Linked DNA regions of Homo sapiens. The protein of the gene in region 1 interacts with the protein of each later gene in a biochemical or structural test. Each region holds a gene or a part of one and is shown on either strand. Other genes may lie near its edges. The genes, in order: DNAJB12 and FBXO7.

Region 1 (3,816 bases):
ACTGCAGAACAGGTTGCAGCTGTGAAAAGGTAGATGGGTGGGCAGGGGCTGGAGCCTGGGGAGACTGGGGAAATCTAGAGGCTTCCTGGAGCATGTCCTCCACCTCCCATCTGCCTGTGGGCAGCACAGGGCCCTGGGAGGGTCTTGGAGGATGGAGAAGGTCCAAGGGTCCAGGCTCACCAGGACCTCTCCTTATTTCCCTCAAGGCCCAGGAATACAGTGTGGGAACTGGGGCTCCACCACCCCTCCCGCCACGACCCACAGCAGAGGCTGGAAAAGCTGACACTGCCGGCTTCCTCTGCCGCTGGCCAGGCAGGCCCCAGGCCTCTTTACACAGCTCTGTTTGTCAATAGAGATGGAGCTTTGTCTCCCCCTCCAGATTCTACCCCAACCCACATCCCAGCACCCAACAAAGACCCTTTTAGATCAGAGCCTGTGTGGGGTAGAATGGAGACCAGAGGCAGAGTTATTGCCCCACGGCTGTGAGCAGGCCCCACGCAGAGTAGCTCGCTACCAGGCCAGAGACCACCCAGCCAAGGCTCCTCAGGCTTAGACGTTCCCAGCTCCCATTTCTCCCCAGGTCTCCCAGCAGCTGGCCTTGGGAATCCCCCAGGGTCATGCCACAGCTCCTGGCAAGCTTCAGGACCAAGGCCGCCTGTGTGAGACTGAGCATGACTGCTGTTTGCCATAAAAGTGTAGGCGAGATCTGTACTTCACTGAGTCGGCAAGGTCCATTGTAGGCAATAGAAACTGATGTATGAGGGATTGGGAAGGCCTAGAAACGGCCAAGAACCAGGAGGTCTCCAGGGACGCGGAGAGGAAGAATTGGTGAAAGAGAACCAGGGTCTCTTTAGGCCCTGTGCTTGCGGTGAACAGTCACCTGCCACTTCTGGCCTTCATGTTACCCACTCAAGACTCAGATTGGGCTGAGCATGGTGGCTCATGCCTGTCATCCTAGCACTTTGGGGGGCTGAGACAGGAGGATCCCTTGAGCCCAGGAGTTTGAGACCAGCCTGGGCAATTAGAAGACCCTGTCTCTATCTTTAAATATTTAACATTTTAAAAACTTTTAAAAATTAAAAAAAAAAAAAGACTCAGATTGCCAGGAGAGTCGGTTGGCTGAGCTTGGGACACCACCCTGGGTGATGGACACCGACAGTCCTCCTGAGCTCTTCCCATGGGGAAGATAGATACTGGCCTGGCGAACCCCACAGATGCCCTCCTAAATCCAAGAATCCAGACGGTGTTCTTCTGTTTCCCGTGGTCCTGCCCAGCTCTGCATCACATTTGGTGCCCACTTGGCTCCCTTGTCCCTGGTGTCACACAGCTGACCCAAGGAGCTGTCAGCCTTGCCCTGTTGGTCCCCCGCAGCCTGCCCAGAGCTGTGCGCCCCACACGGCCTGTTCATCGCCCCCCTCACACAGACCCATGTAGAGCACCCCGTACCATGGTCTCCTCCTTCCCCAGGGTCAAGCAATGTAAAGATTACTATGAGATCCTGGGGGTGAGCAGAGGGGCCTCGGATGAGGACCTGAAGAAGGCCTACCGCAGACTGGCCCTCAAATTCCACCCAGACAAGAACCACGCACCTGGTGCCACTGAAGCCTTCAAAGGTAAGCCAGCCCTGCTTTCCTAGCATTTTGGTGTGTTCATCTCCTGTCCATGGCAGGGAGTAAGGGACCAAGACAGCTTTCCCAGGAAGCAGGGAGCAGGAGGAAGTGGCCTTGGGCCCAAGTTGCCCAGGCTTGGGAGCTGCTTCTTGGGAAAAAGGTTCTAGTAGCCACCTCTAGCTATGTAGAGTTGGTCAGAGCTCAGATAGCACCATTCCTGCCCCTGCTTCCTCTGCATTTCCTGGGGTTACGTAGTAGAGCTGAGGCAGGAAAGTTCTAGTAGCTTCTCCAAGGATTCTCAGTGATTGAGTGACTCACCGTGTGCGCTTCCCTGTCTTAGAGTCTCATAGCTGCCCACTGGGGTAACTGTTTCCCTGCTGAGGGGCAGGGTAGCCCCAGGTCGGGGGCCTCAGGCCTGGTGGCCACCTCAATACCAGCAGCCACAGCCAGCTCCCCCGCCATACCTATACACCTGGGGCTTGCAGTGGGGACATGGCAGTCTCTGGCTTCAGGGCCCACTGGCTCAGGATGGGTGCTTCATTTCTGGCTGAAATCGTAAGCTGCCCTTTATTCATTACATTTTCATTTAACCTGTCAGGCGCTCATGTGTACTGACTCTGTGCACTGCAATTTCTCATTGCCCCAAACATTACTGCCTTCTCTCATTCCCACCATGTCTTCCTTCTCTCATTCCCACTTCATCCACCTCCTTGGGAAATAGCATGGTGACTAGCCCCCACTGGCCTGGGCGGGGTGTGTGCTGTGCTGCACCCACAACCATAGCCAGCTGGAGAGCCTGTGGCAGAGGAGACTCCGAGACCTGGTGTGCAGTGTCCCGGGGCCCTGGAGGAGGAGAGTGGGAGTGGGGGGAAGCAAGGTAGCCCTGTTGAATGTTTCTCCAGCCCCAGCCTCTGCCTGCAGCCTGCTCCGACTGTACCGAGAGGCCAGCTCTGGCCTTGAGGCCTATTCAGAATTGGCGGAGGAGACGATTCCGCGCTCCTTATTCCCGGGGGTTTCAGGATGGGAATCAGATGTGGCTTGGACCCACTCCTCGGAGTCAGTGGCAGCTTGAGGAGAGGGAGTGAGAGACTGAGGAGGTCAGAGCTGGGGTCCTTCAGGGCACAGCCGTCCCGGCTAGGGGGCCCTGGTGGGAGGCTCCAGGCCCAGATAGGAAATAACGGTTGGGGCCTGGACCCCAGAGAGTGGGGGACTCACCCCAGCTGCATCACCAGAAGTGGAGGAGTCTCCATAGAGCCCCGAGATTTGGCCCTTCCCCACAGCTCCTGCTGCTTTCCAGTTCACAATAAGGATATTGTGTGTCTGTCTGGCCTGCATGTCAGACTATGACTTCAGGTTTACAGAACCTCCAGAAAGGGATGCCCATCCTATTGGGCACGTCAAGAGAGAATGAGGAAAGAGGTTTTTGGTGGTTTTCATAAAGTCGGAGAGAGAACTTGAAGCAAGAGACACCTGCTTTTGTTTGACTCCCAGCTCTGTAACATATTAAAGCTGTGTAAGCTTAGGCAGTCACTTCTCTGAGCCTCAGTTTTCTCATTGGTGAAATGGAGATAGGGTTGCTCTTAGAGGTAAATGAGTTGACCTGGTGTGGTGGCTTATGTCTATAATCCCAGCACTTTGGGAGGCCAAGGTGGGAGGATCCCTTGAGCCCAGGAGTTTGAGACCAGCCTGGGCAACTTGGCAAGACCTCATCTCTACAAAAAATACAAAAAATTAGCTGAGTGTGGTGGTTCACGCCTGTAGTCCCAGCTACTCAGGAGGCTGAGGTGGGAGGATCGCTTGAGCAAAGGAAGTTGAGACTGCAGTGAGCCACGGTTGCTCCACTGCACTCAGCTTGGGTGACAGAGTGAGGCCCTGCCTCAAAAAATAAAATAAACAAACAAAAAGAAGTAAATGAGGCCACACTCCTAGGAGGCCTGGCACATTGACAAAGCTTGACCATTGTCTTGAGGAGAACAAGGAGCCTGTGTTACCCTCCACCCAGCCAGGCTGCCCAGATCCACTGAGGGGTCTTCCTGCATGCCCCCTCCTTACACTGGCCAAGCTTCCTGCCCACCCCAAGGACGTCTGCTTCCTAAAGCACTGCTTGAGTACCTGAGAAAAGTGAGCACTCGGCTGCCATGGGAGCCTCCCCCCGCACCCCAGGATCCTCAGGCCTGACCTTTCCTCCTCCTCTCCAGCCATTGGC
Region 2 (3,816 bases), on another chromosome or scaffold:
TCAATCCCTGTTTCCATGATGCAGTTTTACCTATTTGAACAAAAATTTTGATTAAAAGTGTTCTAATATATTATCTTATACAATATGGTTATCCTACAATATAAAATATATTGGCAATGTTAATGATTTGATGCATTTTATTAAGAGGACTGTGTGGAGTGATTATTTCAAACAAGTTAGGAGTCTTTTGGATTTTTAATCTTTTTGAGAGTAACACCTTTCTTCATTATTTGTTTCCCTTTCATTTCGTTCCCCAGGGCACCGAAGCCAAAGCACTGTCCATGCCGGAGAAGTGGAAGTTGAGCGGGGTGTATAAGCTGCAGTACATGCATCCTCTCTGCGAGGGCAGCTCCGCTACTCTCACCTGTGTGCCTTTGGGAAACCTGATTGTTGTAAATGGTAATTGGATAGCATAGTCATGGTTGCTGGTTTATGGATTCTTAGACGTTTCTTTCCAAATGTTTTATAGCCACTTCAGTGATTGGCTATCATGATACAGTTGTGAGTCCTTCTCAACTGTATTTAATTCCTAGGCCACTGATAACATGTGTCTGGAAGATCATGGAATATGAGGTTGTTGAGTTGTTTAGGCCAGCACCCTTCATTCTTAGGGCATCCATTTTTTTGATGTCTTAATCTTTGTAATATTTTGCTCTGGGGGATAATATTTAATATTATCCAATATTATCAGTATTTGATAATAGGAGTGAAATGAGCCTATTACACATGAACTCCTTGGAGAATACTTTTTCTTTATGCCTGTGGATGGCTTTATTTTTTTAACGAAGGTCTTGAACTGAGACATGGGGAGCTAGACCTGGGGTCACCATTTATCCAAGTTGGCATCCCTGTGACCAGCAATGCACAACAACAATGCTAAGTTTACTGGGGCCTTAGTAAGTATGTGTTTTATTTGCTGGGCCTCCCCCAACAAATGTCACTCTGTATGAATAACTTTTCCTGTTTATTTTTCATATTAAGAAATTTCACTGGAATAGCAATGCATTCCATCTCTGTGTTTTAGTTCAGGTACCACTTTGTTTCATATCAACTCCTAGTGTTCTGTCATAATCACACATACTGGAGATCCATTTGAATGACTAGGAGCTTTCATTTTTGTTCTGTTTTGTTTTTTGAGATTTATCCTTTTAGTTAGAAAGATAGCGTGGTAAGATTGGGAGGGCTGCGTTTGTTGTTTTTTTATTCAGTATAGCTCATCTTTTTCGTTTAGCAAAGGCAGTTGCTTTGGTAAGCCTTAGGTCAAAGGTTTAGGTCAGAGGTTTTCAGTATGTTCTGTAGCTACTCCTTTCTGCTGAGATGAAAGTTAGGTAGAAGCCCTATCACCACTTAAACCTTGAGCAGCAAAATGTTTATCTGTTTCATTTATTGAAGTTCTGTGTAAGATTCTGTTTGAAAAAATGTTGGTTTTTTTTTTTCCTGCTAAAATCTATTTTGAAAGCTACTGACTCATGCCATCTTGATCTTTGACATGTTGGATAGTTCTCATTCCCCTCTTACAAAGTTTCTTTTTTCTTTTTTTTGAGACAGGGTCTTGCTCTGTCGCCCAGGCTGGAGTGCAGTAGGCAGAGCATGGATCATTGCATCCTTGACCTCCTAGGCTCAAGCAGTCTTCCTCCTTGGCCTCCTGAGTAGCTAGGACCACAGGCGTGTACCACCACACCTGGCTATTTTTTATTTTATTTTTTGTAGAGATGAAGTGTCACTGTGTTGCCCAGGCTGGTCTCAAACTCCTGGGTTTGAAGCAATATTCCTGCCTTGACTTCCCAAAGTGCTGGGATTACAGGTGTGAACCATGCCTGGCCTCTTACGAAATTTCTATTTCTTTAGTCATAAGATTCTTTGAAATGTTATTTAAAAGTCTCAAAACTAGGTTTAATAGCTTTGGTGGTACTTCACATTTGTCAGGACATGACTGTCTGATGACACTAGGACCTAGCAATGTCTATTCAGCAGTTCATCATAATTAGCAAATGTAGCTTTTACTTTGGCATTCTTGTACACAGAGTGTCAACAGTTTCTGCCTTCATCTAATCATTCTGCTACATCACATCATAACTTGCAAGGTTGGAGTTACCAAATAGTAAATGTGTAGTTGCAAATTTTGCCTTGATTTTTTATAAAAGCACTTAATGACGTGTATAATAACCTCTATTCACTAGATTCAGGATACTTAATATAAAAAGAATAACTGCTGAATGTCTTGATGATTTCCTAATTTCTGATGTTTTGTTTCTTTACTGTTCTTGGCAAATCAGCTCTTGGCAGACTTGCATGGCAGCCAGCCGTTCCAGGATTGATTCTTTGAAAAGGAGCAGTGTGTCTTTAAATCTTTCCTTCACCCAAGGCATCCTGCTTGGTGCACATGTGCATAAGCACATCACTGGGCTCTTTCATGGAATGAGATGAAGTGCGCCTTTGTATACATGATTAAAATTGAACCCTCTGGTGATGTCAAGTATATTTATCCTTTGGGTCTGGAAGAGAGATGATGCTGTGAAAACTAGCAAGATTATTTTAATGAACAAAGGAAGACTCATTGCCAAGGGTTAAATAAAAAATAAATGGAGTTTTTAGTGACTTCATTAGAAATAATGATTTTATTGTGTTTAGTTGCCTCTGATTAACCTTGTTGCATATCTTTAAGTTACTAATAAGCTGCTGCCTAGTGGATTTTATATAAAGATGCTTACTGTAGTTTTTAAAGGTGGTGTTGTAGAGTGATTTTACTTCATGTGATGCCAGGTTTACACTTTTGAACTTGCTATCAGAGAAAGAAATAGGCGAAGAACAGTTTGTTTTGTATAATGTGTCCTTAGTATATTAGGAGCTAGGAAATGCAAGCCCATACTAAAAAAGAAAGGCAGTTGATGAAGTGACAGAATTCTTTATCATCTTTCTTTTGTTTATTTACAGCTACACTAAAAATCAACAATGAGATTAGAAGTGTGAAAAGATTGCAGCTGCTACCAGAATCTTTTATTTGCAAAGAGAAACTAGGTAATACAAACATTATTTAACTTTTGGGGTGAAACTCTGTGAAATTCATATAAGAAAAAAATCTGAAAGATAATGTTCAAAAGACTGAAAATTTCTATATGAGATTAAAGCATATTGAAGACAATGTGGTTTGTTTAAGAATGCAAAGGTTTAAAAAATGTGAAAGTTTTGCTTATAATTTGAGGAGTTTGTTTCTTTCCTGTTTTTCTTAGGGTCATAGTGTGCTGAATTATATTGTTATGAGATAACACTAGTATGTAATTTATTACACTCTGATGATAGTTCATAGTTTCTGTACTAATCTTTGGAGATCTCCCTATTGAGATCTCCATATTGGTATTTAACCAATATGGAGGGGATCTGTGTTTCATGAAAGTAATTCAATGTCAAGTTCATTATTGAAGATTATTGGAGGAAAAACTACAATCAAAATGTTTGTTTAAACCTATATAAATTTGATGGCTATTTTATACAGATTGATACTTTACCAAAGGTTTGCATTCTAGGTAAGGTTTTGCTTAAACTCTATAAAATTATTAATAGATACAAAGAAGACAGGTTTTCCCTTTTATCATTTTTCAGTTAAACCAAACTGTGAGAGGCAGTTATAGGTGGTTGGAGCAGAAGAGATAAGGTGGAGAGGGGAACTGACATTTTTTAAGTGCCTGTTTCATTCTGTACTTGTGCCTGTACATATGTTATTCCATTTAATCTTCTTAGTAAACTTAGGAGGGTTTTAAGAGCCTAGTGGGAATGTTGTGGTACAATGGGAAGATGGCATTTATAGCAGTCCTTTAG

What was found.
Region 2: of the proteins of DNAJB12 (region 1) and FBXO7, one has a biochemical effect on the other in vitro, tested with the Homo sapiens proteins (one large-scale study listed by BioGRID).

What each region holds. Positions count from the first base shown.
Region 1 is NC_000010.11:72,341,163-72,344,978, reverse strand, and holds part of DNAJB12 (dnaJ homolog subfamily B member 12), read left to right. Parts: coding exon 1-29; intron 30-1,467; coding exon 1,468-1,613; intron 1,614-3,808; coding exon 3,809-3,816. UniProt on the Homo sapiens protein: Acts as a co-chaperone with HSPA8/Hsc70; required to promote protein folding and trafficking, prevent aggregation of client proteins, and promote unfolded proteins to endoplasmic reticulum-associated degradation (ERAD) pathway.
Region 2 is NC_000022.11:32,484,811-32,488,626, forward strand, and holds part of FBXO7 (F-box only protein 7), read left to right. Parts: intron 1-257; coding exon 258-399; intron 400-2,934; coding exon 2,935-3,018; intron 3,019-3,816. UniProt on the Homo sapiens protein: Substrate recognition component of a SCF (SKP1-CUL1-F-box protein) E3 ubiquitin-protein ligase complex which mediates the ubiquitination and subsequent proteasomal degradation of target proteins and plays a role in several biological processes such as cell cycle, cell proliferation, or maintenance of chromosome stability.